Linked DNA regions of Homo sapiens. The protein of the gene in region 1 purifies or fractionates together with the protein of each later gene. This does not show direct contact. Each region holds a gene or a part of one and is shown on either strand. Other genes may lie near its edges.

Region 1 (14,981 bases):
AGTTTAACTGCTGCTACAATACAAAGCCTTTAGTCCTAAGAATTTCAGGAAAAATATGAAATTTGAATACATGGTAATACACTCATTTTGTAAGGTATTCACTTTGTGTGTTGGTATTGATTTTGCTATTTGTGTCTAATCTACCGGGGAATTGCTAACCTCAGGACACAAATGTCAGATTCTGGACCTAGACTCTGAACCAAATGACATAAGAATTTGGTTCACAGAACATTTTAAGTTTCACTGTAGTTGTTTTTATAAAATACAGAGGCTCAATGACAACTCACTAGATTTTTGTCATCTAGAAAAACTATAATATTATATATGAAGGCTTTCAATTAGTTTAAAGGAAAAATTACAGAAAGTAAATATAACTTTGCATTCAATAATAAAACAATTTAAATATGTGTTTTAGTTTTAAGACATGGTAAAAATTTCTAAAGTAATACTCAAGCTTAATTTTTAGAAAGAATTCATTAACCCAGTTGCATTTATTTTTTATTGAAGTAGTACCATTAATATTTTTTTCTAAATGTTATCTTTTTGTGAAGTAAGCATTCATTAATTGTTTTAACCTGTGCAATTCCCTAAGAAAACTGTTTTCACAAAGACAGTACTTTGAAAAATGTTTAAACTTTTATTTCTGGGCTTTATTTCCATTCTTTTAATTCTTGATATAAAGAGCAATTCCTTTCAAATTATTGAGCACACATGGACATATTATCTACCTATTCTTGCACTAAAAAAAAGCCAGAGAGCTTCTGCATATCCACTGTTGCTATCAGTTGTGTATGTCAAAAATATTTCCTGTCAGGTTGTTAATTGAGATAGTGCTGGATGGAGCCAGCATTTTAAATAAAAGTGAGAGTAGGCAAAAAACTAAACCTTCTGTTTACTAGCCCAGAAAGACTAACACGTAACACTCAGACTAATATAGATGAAATCCAGGAGCTATGGCTCACTCCTGTAATCTCAGCATTTTGGGAAGCCGAGACGGGAGGACCACTTGAGGCCAGGAGTTCAAGGTCAGCCAGGGCAATATAGCAAGACTCCTGTCTCTGCAAAAAGTTTTAAAAAATTAGTCAGAGGTGGTGGTGCCAGCCTGTAGTCCCAGTTACCCCGGAGGCTCTGAGGGTGGATTACTTGAGCTCCGGAGTTCGAGGCTGCAGTGAGCCATGATCGCACCACTGCACTCCAGCCTGGGTGACAGAGTGAGACCTTGTCTCTAAGAAAAGGAAATAGATTTATTAGTGTCTTCTGTTTGCCAGGCTTTGAGCCAGGTACAGGACTAGAGTGATGAATGAAACACTGTGTCTGCCCTCCCAAGTATTTTACGATCCAGTTGTGTATGATGGCAAGTAAATGGGTAAATAATGATCCAGTATGATAAATGCTGCTAAAGAGGGAAGTCATCTTAGGAAATCAGGAAGAGTTTCCCAGTGGAAGAGACAAGCAAGCTGACATTTCCTCTTGTTAGCTTTTCCTTCTTAAACATTCCATCAGAATCCATGAAATAAACCGATGGAAAAAAACTGATAAAGATTTTTCCTATTTTGAAAAAACCGTTAATTTGCTTCATAGTCCAGGAAAAAACCATGCTGGTTTGATTCAGAAGTTAACAGATCAGATGTGTTTGACCTGGTTTTTTTGTTGGTGGATTATTTCAACTAAAGTTCTCATTATACTTTAAAATATTTGTTAAAACTTGTATCCCTTCCCAAATTATACACATTTAAAAATGTTTAAAATTTCAAAAATTAAACGTAGGACTTTCTGTCTTATATTTTTACCATCCAATTTATACATAAGTATATATAGACAATGTACTGTTGCTGCTTAATGCAAAATAGTTGTCCTTAAAGCAATTTAGCATTTGTTTACAAATATATATGTATAATTTTGCTCCTGATTTGAAACTGCAATTTTATATATTTAGAGGGAAAAAAGCCAAATCATGCTAGAGTGCACTAGATTTCATGTAAGAGCTGTTTGGAGCAGTGGAAGAGTCTCAGAGGACTCAGTGTGTTTTCATACTTCGTGTTCTTTCATGTAAACCTGATTTGAGAAATTCGTCATCACTTTTTCCTTTACAGAAACTTTATAACAAGTCAGCATCCATTTGTAGTCTCTGGTTCATCTCAAATGTTTAGCCTCTTCTCCTTTTTTTGTTTTTTGATGGCCTTTGTCATGTTTCATCCTAAATTTATATCTCTAGGCGCAACTCCTCTTGTGAACTCCAATTGTTCATTCTTAGTCTTGGCTTGGATTTCAAATTTAACTTAACCAAAACAGAACTGTTGGACTTGCTCTCAACTCCCTGTAACCAAATTTGTTCCTGTTAAATTCTTCCTCATCTTAATAAATGGTAGCTATGATCTTCCACTTGCTTCGGCCAAAAACTCGAGCATTATCCTGACTCCTTTCATTCCCCACAAGCCGTCCCGCAGTAAGTAAGGCCTGTTGGCTGTGCTACCCAGTTCTCCTGCTACCGACATCCGAGTCACCATTGTCTATCACCTGGGCTATAGCAGTGACTTCCTAACCATTTTCTCCACTTCCATTCACCTTTTTATAGCCCATTCTCTACACAACAGCCAGAATGATCCTTTTAAAGCAGAAGTCAGACTCCTTCATGCCTTGGCTCAAAATCCAGTGGCTTTCTATCTTCTTCAGAGCAAAACCCAAATATGGCAGTAGGGCCGTAAGTGATCCCACTCCGTCTTTGAGCTCGTGTTTTGCCCCCTACTTTCTTGCTCCGCTTTGGTCACACTAGCCTCTTTGCTGTTCCTCTGTTACCACGGGCATTCCTAGCGTAGGGCCTTCGCACTTGCTCTTTCTCCTGATATGAGCCTTTATCGCCTATAAATACACACGTTCATTTCAGCAGTCCCTTCAGGTCATTGCTTAAATGTCAACTCATCCTAAAGAGCTTTCTTGACAACTTTTTTTCTCTGTAAGGACCTTGTTTCTCTCCTTGGCATTTATCTACATGTGACAGTTTTCTATCATTGGGTTTTTTAAAAAATCTGTGTATTCAACTAGAACTTGAGCTCCACGGAGGCAGGAACTTTTGTTTTGTTTTTCTTCACTGCTCTTTTCCTCGCACCTGTCTGAAGCAGTGATTTTAGCCAGAATCTAGATTTCCTGATTCTGGTCCAGTGCTCTTTCCATGGTTCTGTGTGACCTCATACATCAACCTTATTTCACAAACGAGGTTTTTAAGTTCCTTGAGCACAGTCGATTGTGTTTTTTACTGCTTCTGCTCCGTCCCTGCATAAGACAGGACTGTGTCATGTACCCAGTGATGGACTCCTGGTAAATACCATGGCTTGACTAAATGACCTCCAGTGCTCCCTGTGGTCTTCACCAACACGCATCAGACGACAGGCTCAGTCACGGGATACTTCGCTTTCTGTAGGAGTAAGAGACAAGTTGCTATCACTGAACAGATACACAGTGGCATTTGGAAACTGCATGCAGTTTGAAAAAATCGTGATACAGCAGGAGTCTAGTTTTCAATAAATAGCTTATTCATATTCTGGATTTTGAACAGTTCATGTAACTGTAACTTTGGGGTAGTGGATAATGAGACTGAAATTAATGGTTCCTCTGCTGGTTTCCGTCTGTTTTTTTTTTTTTTCTCCCAGGAGGTTGGTATTTCTGCACTTAACCACCTGATGTTTTTAGGGGGAGTATATCCCAGATAAATTCTGTTGTAAGTCAAAGAGCATCCATGATTGGCTTGGCTCTTTCTTAAGCAACTACTAAGATGCTCCTACATTTGGGTTTGAACGTTTTTTATTCTCTTGGCTATGAAGTTTCTTAAGTGACTCTAGTAATACTGATGGTTCCCCTTGTGTTTACAGGTGATCTGCAACTCTTTCACCATCTGTAATGCGGAGATGCAGGAAGTTGGTGTTGGCCTATATCCCAGGTATGGTGTATGGTACTTCATGTACTGGAAGACACACTTTCATTCCCACCCAAATCCCCAGCCCTTTGGAGGTAGTTAGAAAGGCAGTTGCTGCAGCTTGTTCAAGAGCCAAGCTTAAAACTTAGCAATAAATTACAAAAAAATGGAAAATGTTAAGTTGAAAGAAAACAGTTTTATAACCCCACATTATATGCTGTGATATTAACAAAGGGGCAGATCTCAGAACTAAACTCTTGTTCTCAGGGGGACTTTGGGTGAAGAAGTTGAGGACGGTGGGTGCTAATTAACCATCGGGCTGATTTTTGGTTATTCCCCAGTTTCCTGAGCTGCAGCACATGCTGATTTCACCGGACTTGCCGTACGTATCAGTTGGGTTCATGTTGTCTTTCGAGTTGGCACACTCTGAGCCCTTTCACTCAAGGAGGCAAGAAAACTCTCAGGCTTTGGCCCCTGAATGCTCTCTCCAGCTATTGCTGAGCTGACTCTTACCACTGAGCTATGAAACCGTCTCTCCACAAGCACTATAGGCACACCCAGTTTCATTTTGTTTTTATGCCATAAGAGTCCAAATACAAATTTAGACTTTCTAATAATTGTGAATCTAAGAATTCAGCCTTTTTTCTTATTTCTCACAATTGTCATTAACTGTAGGTCAGGTCTACTGGTAGGTGGTTCTCAAAAGGCAGTAACATAGGATGATTCAAAGCATGGGCTCTGCGTTCAGGCCACCTGGTCCAAATTCCATCACCACTTACTAGCTGTATGTCCTTGAGCAAGTCATTTAATTTCTGTGCATCAGTCTCTTTACCTGTAAATGATCCTCATAAGATTGTTGTGAGGATTAAATGTGATGAACATGCTCAAGTGCAAGAAAGTGTTTCTACATAGTAAGTGCTCATTCTAATTATTACCAATTCCTGATAGCAGCTTAAATCCATTTTGTTTCCCAGATGGTAAGAAATGTCCCTCCAAGGTAATAAAATGACTGGACCATGGCCCAGGATGCATCAGGATGTAGGTGGCAAAATAACGTCAGCTCTCTATTTAAGAGCAAATAGTCCTAATTATTTTTCAGTGTGGATGTTCTAGCAAAGGCGGCCATTTCTCCAAAGGAGCTCAACAAATGAGATCCTATGGGAGAGGTCAGTGGTATCTTGGCTGCTGCATCCCATTATGTCTGAGTATTTTTTTTTTTTGAGATGGAGTCTCACTCTGTCACCCAGGCTGGAGTGCAGTGGTGCGATCTCGGCTCACTGCAACCTCCGCCTCCTGGGTTCAAGCGATTCTCCTGCCTCCACCTCCTGAGTAGCTAGGACTACAGGCATGTGCCACCACACCCAGCTAATTTTTTTGTATTTTTAGTAGGGACAGGGTTTCACCATGCTGATCAGGCTGGTCTCAAACTGCTGGCCTCAAATGATCCACCCACCTCGGCTTCCTAAAGTCCTAGGATTACAGGCGTGAGCCACCACACCCAGCTGTCTAAGTATTTCTTTCTGAGTCAGTTTCTTTCTGACCTTCGTGTTGGGTTGCCTTATTGACTGTTATCTAATCAGTCAACTATGCCCCAATCCCCAAAAAGGACTCAGGAAATTTTTTTATTATTAAATGACGGAATTCCCTAGTTAGCCTGCATCTTGAGGAGAATTGCACTTCGTGGGAGGTGTGCTAGTGACATTTCTGTGAATGCATCCCCGAGTACTGAACCCCTGGCATCCTGTCAACCCTACCTGCTGCTGCCCCCCAAAGGAAGGTGTATTTTACCCACTGCATTTGTTAAATTTAGTTGACTCTACCTGCTGAGCTGTGACAGTCTTCCCCCCTTTTTTTTTCCAGTATCTCTTTGCTCAATCACAGCTGTGACCCCAACTGTTCGATTGTGTTCAATGGGCCCCACCTCTTACTGCGAGCAGTCCGAGACATCGAGGTGGGAGAGGAGGTAAGGAAACTCATGCTTCCCAGCCTGGCCTTCTTTCCTATCAAAGACCCTCTCAGCTCGGCCCGTCCCTAAAACTGATTGTGCCTGAGGGGACAACTTTTCATTGTCCTTCTGCCAGTGAGAGTATTTGTAGTTCAGTCACCTCTCCCCAGCAACCTATCCTTTCTTCTCCCAAATTACAAATGGGCTAATTTTTTAGGGGAGAGGTCACCATATTTCTGGATGATGACAGTTCCTGTCCTGTGTGTGAGAGAGAGAGGAGTTTGTGTATGACAGAGGGTGTGTGTTTTATGCACACACAGGGAATTCATGAAATCTCCTCAGTGGCAACAGCTGAGCAGCCTCTCATATCCTTCCGTGGGCAGGGGGGGGCATCCCAGCTTGTGAGTGGGATCCCCAAGACTTCTTCACTCGGAAGGCCACTGGCTACATTGAAGGTAATGATGCATGTTAACTTTGTGCTAGTAAAGCAAACAGCTTATACTGTCTCAGGCTGACATTGGGACTTGACAAACCCATCAGCATCTCTGGGTGATCATTTCAGCAAAGATGCAAAGGGAATAGAGGACAGGGAGGATGACCTCCAGCAGTGAACTGGCCTTGACCCCTCCAGTTTGACAGACTGTCCAGCCAGCCTCTTTTGGTGCAGAACCTTCTTACAAGACAGCTGCAAACGGGCTGCTCCAGGGCTCTGAACCTAAGCTTGCACTGGTTTGCACAGTGACTACCCATGCTGAGTTCTGAGTTACAGATATTTCTACTTTCCAGAACCCCGTTTCCTTCTCCTTTCCAATTTGCTAAAGTGGATATTTATTGCAAGGAAAACAGTACTGAAAGCTTTTATTGCATTTATGCAGCACTCAGCCAATAAAACCTCAACTCAGAGGTACCATATTTTATGTAGACAGGGATTTGGCTTTGACAAGATTCTCCCCAAACTGATTTTCAGTGGAAGGAGCCACTTCTTATACAACTACTCGCTAAATTTCCAGATTTTAGGACCAGTGTATGAAATATACTGGGATAGATGTCAGTGAGATGGACAATGTAGTTTTTTCTCTTTTTTTTCTGGGGCCGCAAAGGACTTCAAGGCAGGTAAGAGATGAAACCGCTATCTATTTTCAGCAATATTCATTTGGGGGCTGAAGAGCGGCTGCTGCTGTTGTCGATGATGACGATGTTTTTGCAAATTAAAAAACAAACCAAGTAACTTGACAAAAGCAATTAGAGTTGGTTGGAATTTTCAGAAACAACAAAGAAAGTTTCTTCTATTTTCCTAGGCTCGGCTGCCAGTCATTCTCCCGTGGTTGCTTTTCATTTAGTTGAATAAGACACCTTGTCTTTAGGTGCTGCTTTCACTTTTTCACATCTTTCTCTTTCCATCTCTGGAGCAACAAGCAAATCCTCCCTCTTGCCAAATACGAGACATTTCCACTCAGTGTAAAGCCCTTCAGACTCAGATATTTTTCCCTGTGGTACTTAGCAAGGCATCTTCTCAACAAAAAGAAGGTTCTCCCCACAAGTCCTTCATATATACCAGTTTAAGAGAATAAACATTTCTCCATTCCATTTTGTAGGTCTTGCTGAACAGTGTTTCCCCTGATTCATCATCGTTTCTGTCCACTGTGTCTCTTTGTCTTAATGTTATATGCCCTTCGAGGCTGTTTGTTATGATTTAAACATGTCCCCCAGATTCCATCTGTTGAAAACTTTATCCCCAAATTCTTGCTGATGCTTTGTGGAGGTGGAGTCTTTGGGAAGTAATCCAGATTAGATAAGGTTATCAGGGTGGGAACCCCATGATGAGATTGGTGGCTTTATAAGAAGAGGACACTCCTGCTGCCACCTCATGTGACGCCCTCTGCCATGTTATCAGGCAGCAAGAAGGCCCTCCCCAGATGCCGGTGCCATGCTTTTGGCATCATGCTTCCCAGACTCCAGAACTGTGAGAAATTTATTTATAAATTACCCAGTCTGTGGTATTCTGTTAAAACAGCAGAAAATGGACTAAGATACCCTTTCAATCACATCTCTTGTGTAACTCTTTCCCTGATTTCCCATATTAGAAGAAGTTCTTTTCCTTTGAGTTCTCGCTTATAGTGGTTATTAATACATTTTTGGCACATATTATGGCTGTTTTGGAGACCTCTCTATTTAGAGCTTTATGAGGACAGACAATCGTGTCTTATTTCTGTATCTCTTAGCACTTAGCTTTGCATCCAGGAGGCATTTGATAACTTTTTGTTGAATCGACTCTCTATTATATTGAGCTTACTCTAATGACCGGCAGTATTTCTTGTGGGGACACTATTGCCATTTTGAATGGGACAGTTCTTCATCGTGTGGGATTGTTGCATCATTGGAGAAGACTTGTGTCCTTGGCGTGTGCTTAACTAATGCCTGTAGCCATCCCCCAACAACTAAAATATATCCTATGCCTTTCAAACTGACCCCTTGGAGCAGAGGTAGGGGAGAGGGAGAGCCATGAGAAAAGACAGTTTGAGGCATTGATTAAGCAGGGTAATTCCTATTTATTGTACAAATATTAGCTTTAAATTAAGGAATAAATCTAGACATTTTGTGTTCCCAACATACAAAAATGGTAAATACATGAGGTCGTGGATAACCTAAATACCATCACTTGATCATTACACATCGTATGCAGGTAGCAAAATAGTACCTGGACCCCATAAATATGTATAAATATTATGTATTAATTTTTTGAAAGTTAAAATTCCTTGGGAAAAAATTTTAGACATTTTGGTAATTTCCTATCATGAACTTTGCATTTGGCTTTAGTGCTCATTAGGGCACCCACAGTTTTAATATGAGCTATTTGGGATCTGAGTGTCAGAATATGGGATTCACAATGGAAGACTCAACAGCAACTGAGGCAGAAGTTCCTCAATCAACATTTGTTGAGTAAATTAATGAGACTTCTTAAAGATAAAATAAGAGCTGGAATAGGGCTGGGCACCGTGGCTCATGCCTGTAATCTCAGCACTTTGGGAGGCTAAGGGAGGTGGATCACTTGAGGTCAGGAGTTTGCATCCAGCCTGGCCGACATGGTGAAACCCCGTCTCTACTAAAAATACAAAAAATTAGCCAGGTGTGGTGGCGCACACCTGTAATCCCAGCTACTGAGGAGGCTGAGGCAGGAGAATCGCTTAAACCCAGGAGGCGCAGGTTGCGGTGAGCCAAGATCGCACCATTGCACTCCAGCCTGGGCGACAGAGTGAAACTCCATCTCAGAAAAAAAAAAAAAAAAAAAAAAAGCTGGAATAGAGTCTCAGACATTTACAAATGACTGGCAGTCCTCAGTGGTGTCCCATGGCTCCTGAAAGGAAGGGAATATGAAAGCCAGTCTACTGCCAGTTTAAGATGGGAGCATTTCAAACCTCACACAAGGAGAGCTGGAAAATTGCACAAGGTCTGTGATAACAGAAGTTGCCATGGAAATTTCTCACCCCATGTTTCTCTCTATATAAATCCATCCTTTGGACCCTCTTTGGACAGTTTCCTTGCAAACCAGCAACATTTATAATACTTTGCTATTTAAGGCTCTCCATTGTAATGCTGAGTTATTGGGTCTTTTTTTTTTATTTGACTTTGGATTTTTGTCTCCTCATTCAGCCGCCTCCTACAGAGAGAGATGTGTAATATCATTTAAGTCATGGCTCACTTGACTGGATTGCTGATGGCTACCTTTTCAAAATTATCTTAAATATGAGATTCATTTGTTCTGATAGTTTTATAAAACATGGATCAGGGAGGAAAGCTGGGTAGGCCAAAGCAGTCTTATGGTAGTTCCTGGTTAAAATAACTTGTAGCTGTTACAAATAATGCCATTGGCTGCCAGCATTCTCTGGCGCCATATCAACTGGGAGAAATGTGATTGACACAAGTTGAATGCATTAGTATCCCTAATGTCAGTCTTAATCTGATGTCTTTTGGGATTAAGACAGTCTGTTTCTTCTGTTAGTCATCTTATTTGCTAAACCATTAAACGAATTCACTGCATGTTTACTGGATGTCAGGAGTTGGTAGCAGTTTTAGAAACCTTCTCTAATACAAAGATTATTAAGACCCAGCCCTGACTTCAAGAGTTCAAGGTATAGTTGAGGAAACTGACAGAGAACAGAAAACAATAATAGAATTAAGATGCACAGTGGTGTAAATGGGCACAGGCTTACAGCAGCTCAGAGCAGGAGCACTCGAGTGATTAGTAAGGGGAGGGAGTGGAGAGTGGTTAAGGAATGCTTCCAGAGGACTGACTCCTAGACTCTGAAAGGATCCATGGAGTTAGAGTTGGATGAGGCTGGAAAAGGCATTGTAGACATAGACACAGAGGCCAGGGACAGAATGGTGAGTTCAAGGAGTAGGAAGCAGTTCTCATCAATAGACGACGAAAGAATTTAGATGTGACCCGAATTTGAGGGAAGATGTAGGGATCAGACTGACAAACCCCATGGGAGCCTTATCACAGACCTTGGTTTAGCTGAAGGTTTCATAACATTGGCTGGTCTATAGGAGGCGCCCAGTAAATATTTGTGTAAGGGAGAAGGACGAGCAGCGGGACATGATTGAAGGGTTTCAGCAAAGGAACTGCGTGGCCAGATTTTCTTGTTTTTTTTTTCCTGCATGTTTACAAATGTTACTGTTTTTTATTGTATGTACTATACATAAAACACTTGAAGAAAACAATTTTTAAAACCCCACCCAATTCTAACCCCTGAGTTAGATTTGGGATATCACAAACGAAACATTTTACTCAGTGTACATTCAATTTTACCTCAGTCACTGTTGCTGTAGTGTGAGTTTTTCTCAACTCGTTGAACCATATGATTGAAACGTGATGTTTCCTTTGCCTTTCATTCACTTTTTGTATATACGACCATGGCTATGATGATAGGGAATATTTATAGGGTGATTCAATTTAGGAAGCAATAGATGAAGCCTAATAGGTAAAAACAAAAAACAAAACCCAAGGACTACAAAATTGAGTAAGACCTAAGTAGTCTGTACCATCTTTGGAATCTTAGAAAACTCAGATAATGTTACATATTCATTTTTTTTATTTTATGGAAGAAAATGTAAGGTTTAAACTGGGAAATGATTTGTTCAGTGCTACACTTACTACTACGCAGTGTGGAGGGGGTTAGTAATAAAGCTTCATTCTCAGGATTGAAGTAACAAATTATTTACCTAGGACAGTGCCCAGCACATGATGCTTACTACATAGTGATTTTCTTCTTCCATTTGTGATTAGAGTTTCCTGAAGGGAAAAGTAGAGCTCAAATGGTGAGTGTCCAAAAAAAAAATATGACATTAGAGATTTCTCATAAATTGTGGAAACATATTTAGAGAATCTATCAAAACTATAGTAAATCTCATCTTACGTATCAAAGCAGAATAATTGGTCTTTGGTGGAGGTGGTCTGGCTGATGTTTGGACTCGGCAAGAAAGATTGCTACAACTGTTGAATAACATTTGGTTTGTGTATAGAAGTGTTGGTCCATGATGACATCTACACAGATTATTTTCCATTCTTAAATTAACATTTTCTATAGGCAGTCTTTGTTCTAATACATGCTCCTCTGAAATTGAAGCTGAAAGTGTTATGACCAGTTTCACTTTAAATGAAGGTACCTTTAAGTCTGAAATGAGCCGGTGCTTTCAGGTTTAGGCTGTTGAATACAAATACATACAAGTTTGATTTTTGTTTTTGGCTTAAGATGATAAAATTACTTTTAACGGGGTTTTATTAAATTATATTCAATAAATAACTAAATTGTGATTTCACAGTTAAATTCATTATAAAAGTCCCTGCCCCATTCTTAAGAATGGATAAGTGTAAAAGAAATGTAATTTCATTTACCTTTTGAATTAAGCTAAAAGAATATTTAGTAACCTAATTGTGATTTTTAAAAAAATAATTTCAACTTTTATTTTAGATTCAGGGGGCACATGTGCAGCTGTGTTGCATGGGTATATTGCATGATAGTGAGCTTTGGGGTGTGATGAATCCCATCACCCTGGTAGTGAACATGGTACCCAACAGTTTTTCACCCCTTGCCCTACCTCCCTCTCTAGTAGTGCCAGTGTCTGTCATTGCCATCTTTATGTCCATGAGTACCCAGTGTTTAGTTCCCACTTATAAGTGAGAACATTGGGTGTTTGGTTCGATAGATTCTCTAAATATTTGTTTCCACAATTTATGAGAAATCTGTAATTGCTGGGTTTGGTTTTCTGTTTCTGCATTGATTTGCTTAGGAGAATGGCCACTAGCTGCATTCATGTTGCCACAAAGGACATGATGTCATTCTTTTTTATGGCTGCATACTATTCCATGGTATGTGTATATATATATATATATATATACACCACATTTTTTAGCTCACTGTTGATGGGCACTTAGGTTGATTCTATTTCTTTGCTATTGTGAATAGTACTGTGATGAACACGTGAGTGCATGTGTGTTTTTGGTAGAATGACTTATTTTCTTTGGGTATATACCCAGTAATGGGATTGTTGGCTCAAATGGTAGTTCTGAGCTCCTCTCCAAACTGCTTTCAACAGTGGGTTAACCAATTTACATTCCCACCAATAGTGTATAAGTGTTCCCTTTTCTCCACAGCTTCACCAACATTTGTTATTTTTGGACTTTTTAGTAATAGCCATTCTGACTGGTGTAAGATGGTTTCTCGTTGTGGTTTTGATTTGCATTTCTCTGATTAGTGATGTGGAGCATTTAAAACCATGTTTGTTGGCTGCTGGTATGTCTTCTTTTCAAATGTGTCTGCTCATGTCTTTGGCCCACTTTTTACTTGGGTTATTTGCTTATTGAATTGCTTAAGTTCCTTATAGATTCTGGGTATTAGACCTTTGTCAGATGCATAGTTTGTGAATATTTTCTCCTATTCTGTAGGTCGTTTGTTTACTTTGTTGATAGTTTCTCTTGCTGTGCAGAAACTCTTTAGTTTAGGTCCCACTTGTCAATTTTTGTTTTTGTTGCAATTGCTGTTGAAGACTTAGTCATATGTTCTTTCCGAAAGCTGACGTCCAGAATGGTGTTTCTTAGGTTTTCTTCTAGGGTGCATAAAGTCTGTGGTCTTACATTTAAATTTTTAATCTTTGTATTAATTTTTATATATGGTACAAGGTAGGTGTCTTCTGCATATGGCTAGCCAGCCGTCCTAGCACCGTTTATTGAACAGGATGTCCTTTGCTCATTGCTTATTTTTGTATGACCACTTTTCTATGTGTAGGCAAGGTTGGGAGAATGAGCGTCGGGGTGATGTAATAATCCAGGGAAGAGATAACAGTGGTAGCCTGAAGTCGGGGAGCTCAGGTGGTGGCTTGTGATAGGGTACCTGAAGACTATAATATTAAGAAGATAAAATTAGCAGGATTTGTGAAACAAGGACACAACTTGTGAAACAAGAGACACAAAGATACTCAGGTTTGACTTTAAAAAGAAGTGACATTTTTCAGGCTTTTTTCCAGTTCAGAGCCAGTATTAACAGAAACATTCATAACTGTGATCACGGAATTCTAGAAATGAAACAAGGTCTAATTTTAACTTGGTCATCTTTTTTTTTTTTTTTTTTTTTTTTTTGAGACGGAGTCTCGCTCTGTCGCCCAGGCTGGAGTGCAGTGGCATGATCTCGTCTCACTGCAAGCTCCGCCTCCCGAGTTCACGCCATCCTCCTGCCTCTGCCTCCCGAGTAGCTGGGACTACAGGCGCCCGCCACCACGCCTGGCTAATTTTTTGTATTTTTAGTAGAGACGGGGTTTCACCGTGTTAGCCAGGATGGTCTCAATCTCCTGACCTCGTGATCCTACCGCCTTGGCCTCCCAAAGTGCTGGGATTACAGGCGTGAGCCACCGTGGCCGGCCTTAACTTGCTCATCTTATCCACTCAGTTGTAGACAATGAAAAGATGGTTTCATGGAAAAGGAGTTCATTTTGTCTTGAGATTTTAATGTAAGCTATGTATTCAAGATCTAGAAAATCTCCTTCATTATATTACTCTAATGTCAGAAATGATTTACTGCATTTTCTATAAGAGCTGCACTAAAATGGCAGAGCAGTGGTCAATGGCATTAATATTTTAATGCAATTTTGTTCTGTGCCATTAAGGTGTCTACTGATCAATGGCCAAGTTTCACATATACATTCCCACTAAATGAGCCTTACATTTACTGAGCAGATATTCCATTACAACTAGTGAGTCAATGAGTCTTTAATAAAGGTTTTTATCTTTGGCTAATAACATGATTTTAGCTGTCATTACCAGTTAGTAATCTGGCTGTTTTTTCCCAAAAATATGAATAAAATATTTTTGCCATTAAGCACTTCACAATTGATAACCAGATATTCTGCAGACTTCATTGGCATAAAAGAAGCACAAAAATGGGTGGCTTTCTCTGAGGTAATGGGGCAGTCGCCATAGGAAGAGGTGTATTTGAGCCAAGCTTGGAGGATGAGAGGCTCTCAGGAGGCTGAGTGTGGAGGAGAGGCTCGCTTAGCCAGTGATGCCCAGACACATGTTGGCATGGTGTTCATTGTTTCAGAGGTCTAGCAATGTACATAACTGTGACAGGCTGGGGTTCAGGGAGAGACATGGAGGCTAGAAAGGCAGACAGAAAAACAGCTGAGGGAAATCCTTGTGTGCCTTTATTCAAGGGCAGTGAGAAACCATCGCAAGTTTTTATGTAGAGAAATGACGTGATCACATGTGAGTTTTAGGAAGATCTCTCTCAAAGCAGTTTAGAAGATGAAAGGTACACTGCAGGCAGCGGGGAAGCCAGTTAGAAAGCCATTGCGTAGTCCAGGTAATGGTTCCAGGCAGTTACAGTATGCCGAGGGAGGCTTTAGGAGCCCATTTATTGGGGTTAAATGAAATAACTAGTCTCCTGTTGGCCATTCACTGCCTGACAAGATCACTCATGAGTTTTGGCCCTTGTAATAAAGTCTTGGGTTAGTCAAGCACATTTTTTTCTGGCATGACAGGCCCTGGAGTTAGTGGCTTCACACTGGGCACACTGTAATCTCCCAATAACTACTGTCCATTTACCTGCTCTGATAATGGGAGTTGATGACTAA
Region 2 (15,038 bases), on another chromosome or scaffold:
GCTTCAGCCTCCTCGTCTCCACTCCAGAGAGGAGGTGGCTATGTCTTCTTAAGCCTCTGGCCCTCAGAGGCTCCTCCCTATCTCCTGGCTAGTTACCACTAGGCTACCAGGTCTCTAGGGGCCTGAGAGAGGCCCTCTAGAGAATCCAGGGAAACTGTGAGCCCAGGAGTTGCCCATCTATGGTTTCATTCCTCCCCTGGCTCTTCTCCCTCTTCAGGCCATAATTTCCCTGGTGCCAATTTCTTTTCCTCCTGGGGCATCCTCATCCCAGGGCTCTCTGCTGTAGATTGGCTGTGCCAGCTTCCAACAGGTTACTGGCAATGCCAGTGAGTTTCTGTAGGCCCTAAGCTGAAGAAGTGAGGCAGTGATTCTGCCTCCATCCTGGTTTCCCCAAAGCCCCAGGGCACCATCCTTAGGGGAGAAGGTCTACAGTTATCATTATTTTAATTCCATTACTTTCAGTCTGGAAAACTAAGCTAGTCAGAACTGTCATCTTGCTTCCCAATCTAAGAACCTGTGGCCCTGGAACACTTTTCAAGAATTGGTTCATTTTGCTTTACACAGTAGATCTGTTCCAACAGTTCTGTGTAAACCAAATGCTATTTTTCAATGCATTTGGACTGCTGACCATTTAAAAGCAGCCTATGATTGCTTCTTTTTGTAAAGCAAGCAACCTCCCTCCACTTTAGCTGTTTTGACTATTTGAATTTTCACATATTGGGCTTACCCAGAGTGGAGCACACCTCCAGGGCATGTGGCTGACACTGGGTCAATGTCTGCATCTGTGCTGTGTGTGTAGTGTGGTTGGCCAGTAGGTGAGTATCCCTGTGTGTGTGAGTGAAGCCACTCCCCAGGCTGGTGCTCTCCTCCTGTGCCCAGTGACTGCCCAGTGGCAGCTCAGCTGCCCTTCACTCCCACCTGCTGCCAAAGTCCCTGTGCTAATGGGATTACAAATACAAAAAGTGGAAAAAAATTTTCGTAAACTTTGTTTTATATTAAAAGAAAAATCCATAAGTCTGTGTGTGTTAAACATGAGGTTCTGCCTCTGTGGCTGTGTTTGAAAAAATAAAGTTTTATTAGAATAATCCATTTTCCCAAGCAACCTTGTGTACTACAGTGTCTTCTTCCCTTCCCCACAAAGACAAGGAAGAAGCAGGGTAGAAGGCCACCTAACTGTTCCAGCCCCTTCATCTAAGATGTGGGTCAACCTTTCAAAAAGGGGCAGTATTTGGACCCTAGGCCCTTTGCCGGCCATGGCAGGATGTTATACTGTGGCCCAGGCTTCTGCTAAGGCCTTGGTTATTTTTGGCAGTCTGGTTTGGTCTCTCTTTCCCTGGCAGTTATACTTGTCTCCTCCTGCCTGCTGTCACTCTCACTTCCAGCAAGTTGAAGTCAAGTATGAATGCATTCCAGCTCCCTGAGAAATGGTTTATGGTACAGTCAGGAACTTGTCTAGATTGGTTTGTAGGCTTTGGGAAGTAGGGAGAAGGCAGGGTGGGAGACAGCCAGGGATCTTTCTTAAGTTTTCACATGTTACATCCTGGAGAGATAGAGGTTTAGTCATCAGAATTCAGATTCCATAGACCTAGGCAATTTTTCCATCCTAAAAATACTGCTTTTGGAAAATAATCCTAGCTGCAAAGCTTCTCTTTTGTTGTAGAAGACAGTATTTTCCCTAATGTTTCCTTTGGGAGTGTTGGTTTGCCAAAAGAAGCTATGTGGCTCACTCTTTAGACCTTTCTGTTCCACCCTTTCTTCTCTCTATGTTGACATTCTTCCAATGTGTGTGGGTGAAGTGTAGTTGCTTAGAGATCCAGGCAGGAGCCTCTGTCTCTAAGGCTTAGCCTTTCTTTACCAGTTGTGGTGCTAATTTGCCAGGCAGCAAGAAGAGTCAAGTTGCTTAGCTTATGTCCTGGTTTCCTGCTTCAAATTGGTGGCACTCATCATTGAATACCAATGAAGTGTGTGCAGGACAGGACTGACTTGACTACCTGGAGCAGGAATCTTTGCAGGGGTGCACATACACCCTAGAAAAAGTGAGGGTTGTCACCTGCCCTGGAAACAAAGGAAGGGCTTTGGGGAAGTGGTGGGCAGTGGCATGTGGTTAAAGAAGCTTAGAATTACAGGGTTTTTTTTCTTTAAAACTGATGTTTCATTTCACCTACTGCTTGAGCAGGGGTAAAGTTTGAACATCTAAAATGACTTTGTTTCCCCCTTTTTTTCTTTTGAGTTTATTTTTGTTGGATTTTTCTGCTATTTTCTGTGAGGCCAAGTGTGATTTTATTTTTCATTCCTGAAGTCTTGTTAATATAGGAAAGAACGTAAACTCCATGAGGGCAAGAGTTTTGTTTTATTCAATATTGTGTCCCCAACACTTTGGGAAGTTCCTGGCACATGAAAAGTGCTGGTCACATTTGTTGAATGCATTTCCCTTTTGCCTTTCCCATCCGTGAACTTAGGTACATTTCTGTCTCTCTGCTGTGAGAAACTAGCCTTGGACATTGGGGCAGTAGTTAAATCTCTGTATGGGAGAAAATCCCAGCAGATAATTTTGATAGAAAAATTGCAAGGCAGATAGATCTTGTATGGATTCACCCTTGTTCCCCTCCTACCAACTACAGCTTATGGGCCATGTGCTTTAAGAGGTGGCTCTCAGCCCAGAAAAACATTCTGAGTCAGGCCTCAGGTTGGCTGTGGGAGATGGAAGTTAAAAAGAAGTGGAGGGAGGAATGTTTCCTTGGTGCTCCACAGGGTTGGTTCTAGAATGATTTTCCTATATGTTTTATACTTTAGTAAAAGTATAAAGTCAATAGTTGGTTACCCCTCTCCCCAAGCCTTTGTTACAAGAAAAGTAGGTCAAGGGTGTAGACAAGGTTATGGACAGGAGATAGCTGGGGTAGGCACAGAAGCCTTGGAGAAAGAACCAGCTACCACTATTTCCTGTCTGTAGGGAAAATCAAAAAGTCACTTTTAGAACAACAGTCATGGGTTATTACTATACCCTTTATCTTTTGTATCCATTTTGTGTATACTCAGTCTCTGCATCCATGAGACCATGGAATGTGCTAGTCCCTGATATTGCCAGCTTTAAATGATTGAGGCAATTTCCTGTTGCTTATTGTGGGTAACAATCTAGCCAAAAATCTCAGCATCTCACTTTCTCTGCAGGCTCCTTTTCTAATCAGGAGCTATCAGTCTCCCACACCTGTATTAAATGCATTCAGATAAGAGTTACAGAATTTTCTTTGCCCCCAGCCCCACTAATTCCATGGTAAGATGGAGTGCTACTAAGAGAACCCCTTTACTGTTGGTCTATTTCCAGTTCCCCTAAGAGTTGAATGGAGAAACACGTAGACTTAATAACATTGGCAGACTAGGAAGGGGAAGAAGTTAGGTCGGTTTTAGGAAAAACACCAAGATGTTGGGGGGCACGTTGGCCTTCAGTCAGTGGAAAGAGTGGCATTATACATCCAATGGAAGTAATACATTGGCCAATTGGAAAGGAACCTAAGAAGTGCTGGCAGTATAGAATGGGATGGTGCTGTTATGGGCCATTGAGAAGGAAGACATTGTGTCTCATGGACCAATGGGGAGAACATTTCCTACAAGACAGCAGGTAGGAGCTCATATTTTCAGGATAGGAAATCAATGGGGGTATTGGAGACACTAAATAGCTCAAAACATCCACTCTCTAGGTACCTTGCCCCTCACCCCCTTACCCCGTAAATGTCTTTGGTATCCGAGGAGAGCAAGCTAAAGCCCTCTCATATATACGACTCCCTGAAGGAAGATTGAGACCAGGGATGATGCCATGGGGAAGCTGAAGGACCCGCCCACTTCCCTACCCCGGCCGGACCTGCAATTCCCCTCCAGACCGCAGGGGGCACTGCAGGCCCCGGGGAGATTGGGGCGGAGCGCTGCGAGGGGCCAGGAGCTGTCGCCCCGCTCCAGAGCGCGGGGGGCGCTGTGCGGGGCCCAGGCTGCGGCTCCGCTCCCGGCCACGGGGGGCGCTGCGCTGCGCCGGTGGTTGGTGGTGGCTGTTGGGGGGGGTGGGGGGGAACGGCGGCCGCGGGTGGTGCGGAGGGAGGCCTTGCGGGCGGATCGGGCGCTTGGCGGCGGAGGTGGTGGGAGGCGGCGGGCGGGAGCGCGGGTCAGGCCGGCCCCGGCGATGGCGGACGCGGCGGCCTCCCCGGTGGGCAAGCGGCTGCTGCTGCTGTTCGCGGACACTGCGGCCTCAGCCTCGGCCTCGGCTCCCGCGGCGGCAGCGGCGAGCGGAGATCCGGGGCCTGCGCTGCGCACTCGAGCCTGGCGGGCCGGCACGGTGCGGGCCATGAGCGGGGCGGTGCCCCAGGACCTAGCGGTGAGTGGCGGCCGAGTCGGGCACTCGAGGCCGGGGCTGCGGGGCCTGCGGGCGGCCTCCCCGGGGGCCTTTGTGAGGGGGCGGTGGGATGGGGGTGACCCATTTCCGTGCCCCCGGGTCTCCTTAGCGCCCCCCGCCGGCACCTCCGCACCCCGAGCGCTTGCCGGCATGGCTTCCGCGTCGGGGTGTGCGCCCCGGTTTCCCCCGGGGGGCGGCCAGGGCGTCCGGAGCTGCTGCTTGCAGCCAGCAGGCCCCGCCTCCTGGGCGACCCTTTTCTCGGCGTTCCCCCCAACACGCCTTCGGAGCAGGCTCTCGAATCTTGAGCTCCCGGGAGCCTCAGAGTTCGGCCAGTGTTGCCGCTGCCCTCTCGAAGACGCGGACCTGTGGTCCCCAGCCTCTCCCAGGAGACCTGCGCCCTGTTCCTTTTCTCCCAGAGCCCCAAGTGGGGCGGGAATGTGGGCAGTTATGGGAGGCACGGAGGCTGCAGTTGGAGCTGGTCGGGGCTTTTTTATCTGGCAGTTACTTCCTCATCTGAGCTGGGCTCGGCCTGGCGGTCTCCAGAAAGGCCAGCTCTCGGCACTGTCTCGAGCTCTCCTCTCCTTTCCTTAACGCTTCTGGGTGACAGGAGCTGCAGTTGTGGCTGTTTTTGTTAAGTTTGAGATCTTTCTTAGTGGCCGAACGGGGCTGCTGGGTAGTGCTTTTTGCTCCCAGCTCAGCTACTCCCCCAACCTTGGGAGAGGTTTTGTTTTGAAACTTTGTGTTTGGGCTTGGCCCTTTTTGAATGCCTTGGTGTGTTTTGTGATTAAAGTTGTTCAGTCATACAACTTAACTAGCATTCGGGATCATGATGTGTTATTCTCGTTAATGTGGCGGTAAAATATAGTGTTTGAGTTTTGGCAAGCCACTTTATTTCCTCATTTTGATAGGGGCCCTAGCTTCTCTGGTGAGATAAGGCTATGAAAAATGGTGTGTGTGCGTGTTGGGGCAGGGGGTGGTCTTTTGGAATGTAATAGATCAGCAAGCAGAAAGTAAATTTTCTTGATGAACTTGCTTTTGCAGATATAAACGGGAACGCAGTTTGTGAGATTTGGAAGTAATGTTGTAGGCTTCCGATGTTCATTTTTCTTCCTATTGATCAACGGTGTTAGACTGTCCTTTTTCACTAATATACAAGCTTTATGGATTTTTTTTGTGGATGGCTTAGGCTTTGCTTCTGCTACTTGGGTTCATTTGCTTTGATTTTTCTTCATGCTGTATAAGAAACGTTACTAGGACATTTATAAGGCCTCAGTGGGGCAAATTTGCAAAAAGATACTAAAAATTTAAGGGGATGGAATGATGATTAAGACTGGGATTTGGATCTCTATTCCTCTGCGCTTTCTTTAAAAGATGGCTGGGATGGGAAAAGAAGTGTCCATTTCAGATTCATTCTACCACCTTGGAGGCAAAACATACTTAAGATCCACTATTATATGCATACTTTGACCGAAGGCCTACTTTGCCCTAGCTATTCATTGGGATTTTTTTCTGGTTCTTGCAGTGGTCGTCTCGTTTCCTCCATCAGATGAATTGCTAATGAGCTCTGCACCTGAAATGGCTCCCCATTCACTTTGTCGTTTGCTGTGCTCCCTAAGGGCAGAGGATTTTGGAGCTCACTTCCTTGCTGGACACCCACTAAGCTAAATACTGAATAATTTTACCACTGATCCCACGGAACTGGGTTCTCAAACCAAGTAAAAAGTTGCAGTGATTCTTGGAAATTAAAGCAAAGAACATTACAGCTGTGTTGAGGTCTTGCATAGGGCTGTGTGAATGTAGAAGCAAAGGCAGGTTTGTATTTTGAGAATACATTTATGCTTGTCTTACATGTATATCCAGGGACATAGATGAGAAAACAGCCAGACCAAAACTCAGAGCCTTTAGATTTTTTCACCAGCTTGCAAAATTGTTCAAGAATTGGTATTTTGTTGAGGTTCTATTAATGACAATGACCAGTGTAGGATGAGAATGGGCCGTTTTCTTTTTTTCTCATTAAGAGAGATTTCCTTTGGACCGTAGGCATGTGGACCTTTCCAATTTGCACCACACACGGTAGTAAACACAACTGTCTTCCAATCAAAAGTGTTCTTCCCGTACTCAAGGGTGGAGTTTGCAAGCAGCTGGCCTGTGATTGGGCAGATTTTCATTCAGTTATGTTTAAGATGTTTTCAGGCATGCTTGGTTTTGAGTAATGCCTAGCAGGGCGCCCCCTTTTAAGGATGAGTAATTGAGGGTTGGATGAATGAGTTTCTGAAGTGATTGAAAACACACTTCTTAATTTTAGATTCCACGAATACATCTCTTTCTAAATACTTTTTGATTCAGATATCCTATAAAATACAGTACTGATCCATTAAATGAAACCTTTTTTGGAAAACAGTAACAAAGCCAAGTGCTACCTTAAGGTGAGATGTGAAAAAAAGGAGTCAGGATCCTGTTGATTGAGAGTTTTGTTGATAAGGTTCTCATAGGTGGACATCTTCACCAGCAGAAGCCATGCTGACAAATTACTCAGATGTTTAGCCAAGGCATGAAAACAGCTTTTCCCCCACTTTCTAGTGGAATAGTAATTTTATTTGTGTTTTAAAATGGGCCTTTTATTTTTTTAGAATTAGTTTATGGGTTGTATGCATTTATCTCTGGCTTTTCTTTCCTAATCTGGTGTCCTCTTTGTGTTCCTAAATCATTATTGGCTCATGTAAGTTGCAGAGACCTTGGGACCGTCACGTATATGGGTATTGTAGATAAAACAGACCAAAAAAAGAAACCCATGGATTTTCCTTTTTTTGGTTATAAAAGCAAAGCTTGTAATTTGCAAAATGTCAAACAAAGGTTTACACAAGAAAAACCAGCAATCTCTTTGCTCATCTTTCTTAATGCTAGTACAAAAAACATGAAAACATTCAACCGTATACAAAGAGTTCCCTCTTTTTTTAGCAAATGGTGTCCTACTGCACAATATTTGCACCCTGCCTTTTTTTTCTTTCATTTGACAGTATACCATGGGGATCAATACTTACAGATTTTACTCATCGTTTTTGGTAACTACCTTATATTCCATAGAATGGATGTACCATAATTTATTCAGTTATTCCTCCTGTTAATGGACATTCAGGTTATCTAAAGTTTTTTTGGCAGTATAGACAATGCTGTCATTAATATACTTGTATACATATTTTTATGTAATCCAGGTTTTATTTCTGTAGTTTAGCAATCCAGGGTTGAAATGGTTCGGTTAAGAAGTATATGTATTTTTTATTTTATTACATAATGCCAGGTTATTTTCCAGTAGGTGTATAGCATTTCCTACTCCCACCAACAGTACTCAGGGTGCTTGTTTCTCTTTACCCTTGCCTTCACTGGTATCATCAGTCTTTCTCATTTTTGCCAATCTGATGGGTGAAAAACAATATCCATAATTTTCATGACTATTTGTCCTTTTTTTCCATGTGTACTGGCTTTTTCATTTCTTTTATTTGTTACTTATGGATATCTTTTGCTCATTTGAGAAAAATAGGAGTTGTCTTACCACTCTCTGCAAGTTCTGTGCATGGATATTAACTCCTTCACCTGCGTAGTGGGTTGTATTTTGTTTCACTTGTCTCTTGACTTTTTTTTTTTTTTTTTTTTTTTTGAGACACAGTCTCGCTGTGTCACCCAGGCTGGAGTGCAGTGGCTCCATCTCAGCTCACTGCAACCTCTGCCTCCCGGGTTCAAGCGATTCTCCTGCCTCAGCCTCCCGAGTAGTTGGGACTACAGGCGTGTGCCACCACGCCCAGGTAATTTTTTGTATTTTTAGTAGAGATGGGGTTTCACCATATTGGCCAGGATGGTCTCGATCTCCTGACCTCGTGATCTGTGCCCACCGCGACCTCCCAAAGTGCTGGGATTACAGGCGTGAGCCACCGGGCCTGGCCTCTTGACTTTTTTTATGGGTTGCTTTGCTATACAGAAAAATAAGAATTTTATGTTATCAGAATTATCGGGCCTCTTTTTGTTTGTTTTGTTTTTGAGACAGAGTCTTGCTCTGTCTCCCGGGCTGGAGTGCAGGGGCATAATTACAGCTCACTGCTGGGCTCAAGCAATCCTCCCAGGGACTACAGGCATGCGCCACCGGGCCTGGCTAGTTTTTGTATTTGTTGTAGAGATGGGGTTTCGCCATGTTGCCCAGGCTGGTCTGGAACTCCTGGGCTCAAGCAGTTGCCTGCCTCAGCCTCCCAAAGTGCTGAGATTCCAAACATGAGCCACTGTGCCTGGCCTGACTTTTCTTAATAGTTTAGGATTACTTGACTGGGAAGGAATCCCCATCTTGAACCTATATAAATATACTTTAAAAAACATTTTTTTTTTTTTTGAGACAGGGTCTCACTCTGTCACCCAAGCTGGAGTGCAATGACACAGTCACAACACACTGCAGCTTCGACCTCCCTGGGCTCAGGTGATCCTTCCGCCTCAGCCTCCCAAGTAGCTGGAACCACAGATGCACACTACCACGTCTGGCAAATGTTTGTATTTTGTATAGAGATAGGTTTTGCCATGTTGCCCAGGCAGGTCTTGAACTCCAGTCAAGCAATCTGCCTGACTTGGCCTCCCAAAGTGTTGGGATTACAGGCGTGAGCCACCATGCCCAGCCAACATTTTTGTTTATTTTTACCTTTAGATTTTTGGTACATCTGGAATTTATTTTTTTATTTTTATTTATTTATTTTTTTTGAGACGGAGTCTCACTCTTGCCCAGGCTGGAGTGCAGTGGCGCGATATTGGCTCACTGCAACCTCTGCTTCCTAGGTTCAACCAATTCTTCTGCCTCAGCCTCCCAAGTAGCTGGGACTACAGGCATGCATGAGATTAGGTTTCGCCATGTTGGCCAGGCTGGTCTGGAACTCCTGACCTCAGGTGATCCACCCACCTCGGCCTCCCAAAGTGCTGGGATTACAGGTGTGAGCCACCGTGCCTGGCATGGAATTATTTATTTATTTATTTATTTAGAGACAGAGTTTCACTCTTGTCGCCCAGGCTGGAGTGTAATGGTGTGATCTCGGCTCACTGCAACCTCTGCCTCCTGGGTTCAAGCGATTCTCCTGCCTCAGCCTCGCAAGTAGTTGGGATTACAGGCGTCCACCACCATGTAATTTTAGTAGAGATGGGGTTTCACCATGTTGGCCAGGCTGATCTCGAACTCCTGACCTTAGGTGATCTGCCTGCCTCGGCCTTCCAAGTGCTGGGATTACAGGCCTGAACCACCGCGCTCGGCGGGAATTTTTTTTCTTTCTTTCTTTCTTTTTTTTTTTTTTTTGAGACGGAGTCTTGTTCTGTTGCCCAGGCTGGAGTGCAGTGGCGCGATCTCAGCTCACTGCAACCTCTCTCTCCCAGATTCAAGTGATTCTCCTGCCTCCAGTCCCAGTAGCTGAGATTACAGGCGTGCACCACCACACCCAGCTAATTTTTTTTTATTTATTAGTAGAGACGGGGTTTCGCCATGTTGGCCAGGCTGGTCTTGAACCCCTGACTTCAGGTGATCCACCCGCCTTGGCCTCCCAAACTGCTGGGATTACAGTCATGAGCCACCGCACCCAGCCTTTTTTTTTTTGAGTGGTTTTATCTGTCATCCAGGCTGGAGTACAGTGGTGCAGTCATAGCTCACTGCAGCCTCAAATTCCTGGGCTCAGTTGGTCCTCCTGCCTCAGCTTCCTGATTAGCTGGGACTACAGGTGCACAACATGATTCTCAGCTTTTTATTTATTTATTTATTTATTTTTATTTTTATTTTTTTATTATTATTATACTTTAAGTTTTAGGGTATATGTGCACAATGTGCAGGTTAGTTACACGTGTATACATGTGCCATGCTGGTGTGCTGCACCCATTAACTCGTCATTTAGCATTAGGTATATCTCCTAAAGCTATCCCTCCCCCCTCCCCCTACCCCACAACAGTCTTCAGAGTGTGATGTTCCCCTTCCTGTGTCCATGTGTTCTCATTGTTCAATTCCCACCTATGAGTGAGAATATGCGGTGTTTGTTTTTTTGTTCTTGCGATAGTTTACTGAGAATGATGATTTCCAATTTCATCCATGTCCCTACAAAGGACATGAACTCATCATTTTTTATGGCTGCATAGTATTCCATGGTGTATTTATTTATTTTTTTTTTTTAGACACAGTCTTACTGTGTCAGCCAGGCTGGAGTGCAGTGGTGCGGTCTTGGCTCACTGCAACCTCCACCTCCAGAGTTCAAGTGATTCTCCTGGCTTAGTCTCCTGCGTAGTTGTGATTACAGGCGTGTGCCACCATGCCCGGCTAATGTTTGTATTTTTAGTAGAGACAGGGTTTCGCCATGTTGTCCAGGCTGGTCTTGAACTCCTGACCTCAGCTGATCTGCCTATCTCAGCCTCCCAAAGTGCTGGGATTACAGGTGTGAGCCACCGTGCCCCCCCCACCTTTTTTTTTTTTTTTTTTTTTTTAAGAGATTGGGTCTCACAGTTTTGCCCAGGCTGGTTTCAAACCCCTGGCCTTAAGTGATCCACTCAGCTCGGCCTCCCAAAGTGCTTGGATTACAGGCATGAGCCACTGCACTTGGCCTGGAATATTTTTGTAATTGGCAAGTGAGATGAGGGACCTAATTTGTTTTCTGCTGAGTGACCAGTTGTGGCAACACTAATTTTTTTAGGTAAACCATTCTTTTCTTTCTGTAGGTGTAATTAAATGATGCTGTACATGTAGTATCACTTGGTTTTGAATGTGTATCATAGTTATCTCATGTATCCAGAAGTTACCAGAGAAGTGAAAGCATATCCGCCCTATTTTTTTTTATCCCTTAATCTTTCATCTCTCTTTCAAGGAAAGACGGATTCTAAAATACTCCTTTCCTTTGATTAGAGATAATGTAATAATTGTAGCAATGTCTAGGCTAGTACTATGTTTCTTCTATCTGAGAGTCTTCCAGGAGGAGTGAAAGTGTATCTGCCTTCTGTTTTTACACCTCCCCACCGAACCTTTCCTCTGTCTCAGGGTGGGGTAGGTAGACTCTAAAATACCTCTCTATTTTGTTTCTAAATAATGTAATAATTATAGTCAGGTTCAGGATAGTACTATATTTACCGTATTTCCAGTGTACAATTCGCTACCTATGGTCAAACATAGAATTTCAGCCCTAGTTGAAATGGGAGTTTGTGGTTTTAAAAATGTTTGTGTCCTTTCATTACTTACAATTCCAAAAGTTGAAACTCTGAGTGATACCTTGATACTTATGCTCTATTTATTAATGTAAATAGAATATGTTTTTGTGATTCTGTGTATGGTTAGAGAACTTTAAATAAAAATGACATTGTACTTTTTGACATTAAGACTATATACTGTTTAATTGTGAGCCCGTCTAAGCACACTCATCATCTTAACTCTCCCCTTACAGCATCAGGTCTGTTTTTGAAACACTGAGCCATGGTTGAGTTTTTCAGACACTCAAGCACTTTGTATAGTTGATTTTTTAAAAAAAGATTGTGTGTGTGTGTGTGTGTGTGTGTGTGTGAATTTTAATAGTTCTATTTCTTTTTTTTTTTTTTTTTTTGAGACGGAGTCTCACTTTCACCCAGGCTGGAGTGCAGTGGCACATTGTCGGCTTGCTGCAACCTCCACCTCCCGGGTTCAAGTGATTCTCCTGCCTCAGCCTCTTGAGTAGCTGGGATTACAGGCAAGTAACTCGGATTACAGGTGCCTGCCACCACACCTGGCTAATTTTTGTAGTTTTAATAGAGACAGGGTTTTACCATGTTGGCCAGGCTGGTCTCGAACTCCTGACCGCAAGTGATCTGTCTGCCTTGGCCTCCCAAAGTGCTGGGATTACAGGCGTGAGCCACCACGCCCGGCCATTAATTTCCATTTGTTTCTAAGGGACTTGCTTCACTAACTCCCCACCTGCCAAGGGTTCATTCCCTTTTTTTTAAATACACAGCTTCCTGGGTCTCTTCTCCAACTTGTAGTTTATTTATTTAGTTCCCCTTCCACCAGCAGACTCAAAATGGTGGGTAAGAAACATGGCATTTTCCATTGTGATTTTCTTTGCAACAGCTGGGGTGGGTTCTATATAGGCTTTGCTTCCACAAGGCCTGGGGGATGCAACACCTGTTGATGCTTCTCAGTTTTCCACTGCCTTTGACAGGTTGGTGGTTTTTAAGCCCTTTCCACTGTACCATCCCTACTGCCCCTGGTGCGAAAGCATCATCTTTTGCTCTTGATCTCTAGGTGGGTAAAACCTGCCTGATTAGTAGTGATTCAGATAGTGTGACCTCCTTCAGTTTTCTAAGGGCTGAAACTCCTTTTTTTTTTTTTCCTTTTTTCATGACTTCAGAGGTAATCAGGCTCTAGGGGACTGATTCTCTCTAACCAAACTCTGGAGACTGAATTGTAAATCCACATGCAAGGTTATTAATTTACAGTGGGAGGTATACCTATCCAGAGATCTGCATAGAGCCCCTTCCTGCTCTGCTCTAGAGACCAAATTACTATAAGAAGGGTCCTTGATGTGCAAAGAATTGGACAAGGGAAATTGGGTGTTGCCAAAAGGCTGTTTAAAGCAAGCAGCCTTGATTTTGGTGATCCTTCACTTTTCTAGTATTTTCTGGCTTCCGTTGCTTTGTTCCTTCTTTAAACTTTTCTTTTAATGCTGTCATCCATTGAAATCCTATACAGAGAAAAGAAAGCCTGCTCATCCTTCAGGCCCATGCATCCTAGGAGCTACAAACCCTATAAAGCCTTTCTGATTCCCCAGCATGTTGTTTTTATTCTTTGTTCCTTTAGCACTTTGTGGATACCACTTTTTGGAATATTTATTGTAGTTTTTCTTGTTATAGATATGTGTAGCAAGATGTATAGCTTGTGAAGAAGTTCAGGAAACGCCACCCCAAAATATGCTGCATTGGATCTCAAACTGAAGGCACTTGGGGAGCAGCAGATGGAGGGCTGTCTCTGAACTTACTTCATCTACCTAAAGACACATCCTCCAAAAGGAACTCTAGGCCGGGCGCTGTGGCTCACGCCTGTAATCCCAGCACTTTGGGAGGCTGAGGTGGGCGGATCACTTGAGGCCAGGAGTTCGAGACCAGTCTGGCCGACATGACAAAACCCTGTCTCTACTAAAAAATACAAAAATTAGCCGGGCATGGTGGCGCACGTAATCCCTGCTACTCGGGAGGCTGAGGCACAAGAATGGCTTGAACCTGGGAGGCAGAGGTTGCAGTGAGCCAAGATTGCACCACTGTACTCCAGCCTGAAAAAAAAAACAAAAGAAGGAACTCTATTGTCATGAATCCCTTCCCTGCTAACCTTATGAACCAGGGAAGATTAATTCCTATCACAGGAGATGAGACTGGAGGTCTATATCACATGCAGAAAGACAGCCTTAGCTGTCACCTGTTCTTCTGAGGGCCCATTGATTTTTTTTTCCCAAAAATCATTAAGTCGGGTGCAGTGGTGTGCACCTATAGGGAGGATCACTTGAGCCCAGGATATATATATACATATATGTGTATACACACACACACACACACACACACACACACACACAAAATATCTTAAGTGAATAGTGTACGTGGTTTACTCTCCCCTAAGTTGCCTATAAGAAATATAGAAATATAATTATTTCTATGGTTTTGTTATATAATTATTTCTATAATTTTATTATATAATTTTTCTATAATTTTATAGTATAATTATATAATTATTTCTTTTTTATATACTTTAAATTTTAGGGTACATGTGCACAACGTGCAGGTTTGTTACATATGTATACATGTGCCATGTTGGTGTGCTGCACCCATTAACTCATTTACATTAGGTATATCTCCTAATGCTATCCCTCCCCTCTCCCCCCAATAATTATTTCTATAATTTTATATGATAATTATATAATTATATAAAACATATTTCTATAATTTCTATAGAAATATAAGAAAACTTCTCAGTCTCACTGGGTTCTGGGTATTTACTTTTCCTTGTTGTGATGCCCCTTACATGTAACAAATTTGTATTATTTTTCTTTCCTTAAACTGCTGACTGTTTATTTCAATCACCTAACCCTCAGAAGGTAGAGGGAAAGTCTTCCATCCTCCACACTTGCTTATCTATTCTACTAGATAGTAAATTCATGGAGGTCAGGAAACACGGATTTTTCTGTTTTTTCTCTTCTATTCCCTGACCACTCTGTCTAAAAAAAGTAGAACATTTTGAAGCCCCTATTAGGCTGATGTTCACTTCCGATTTATTACGGAATTTCTACTCCGTGGCCCCGTTGTCTTTATAATCTTTAAATTTTTTCTTTTACATGTTTTTATTGATACGGACTCACTGTTAATTTTTTCATCTTGATATTGGAGTCACATTTGGGACTCCAATCCAAGGTACACTGGCCCTTAGTTTTGTGATTTGCATCTGGGTTGTTTTCTTAGATTTGAAGCATTTGGTGTTTTCTTTCTCTGATTCTAAAGTAATACATGCCTATTATACAAAGTGTAGAAATTATTCTAATAATTTTTTTTTCTTTTTTGAGACGGAGTCTCGCTCTGTCTCTCAGTCTGGAGTGCAGTGGTGTGATCTCGGCTCACTGCATCCTCCGCATCCCAGGTTCAAGTGATTCTCCTGCCTCAG

The links.
Region 2: the proteins of SMYD3 (region 1) and KDM3B purify together in Homo sapiens (affinity purification with mass spectrometry; 2 studies listed by BioGRID and IntAct, with this or other methods). This does not show direct contact.

What each region holds. Positions count from the first base shown.
Region 1 is NC_000001.11:245,918,823-245,933,803, reverse strand, and holds part of SMYD3 (histone-lysine N-methyltransferase SMYD3), read left to right. Parts: intron 1-3,866; coding exon 3,867-3,934; intron 3,935-4,251; exon of another isoform or gene 4,252-4,269; coding exon of another isoform or gene 4,270-4,292; intron 4,293-5,770; coding exon 5,771-5,873; intron 5,874-14,981. UniProt on the Homo sapiens protein: Histone methyltransferase. Specifically methylates 'Lys-4' of histone H3, inducing di- and tri-methylation, but not monomethylation. Also methylates 'Lys-5' of histone H4.
Region 2 is NC_000005.10:138,348,628-138,363,665, forward strand, and holds the start of KDM3B (lysine-specific demethylase 3B), read left to right. Parts: upstream 1-4,057; 5' UTR 4,058-4,168; coding exon 4,169-4,360; intron 4,361-4,519; exon of another isoform or gene 4,520-6,756; coding exon of another isoform or gene 6,757-6,804; intron 6,805-15,038. UniProt on the Homo sapiens protein: Histone demethylase that specifically demethylates 'Lys-9' of histone H3, thereby playing a central role in histone code. Demethylation of Lys residue generates formaldehyde and succinate. May have tumor suppressor activity.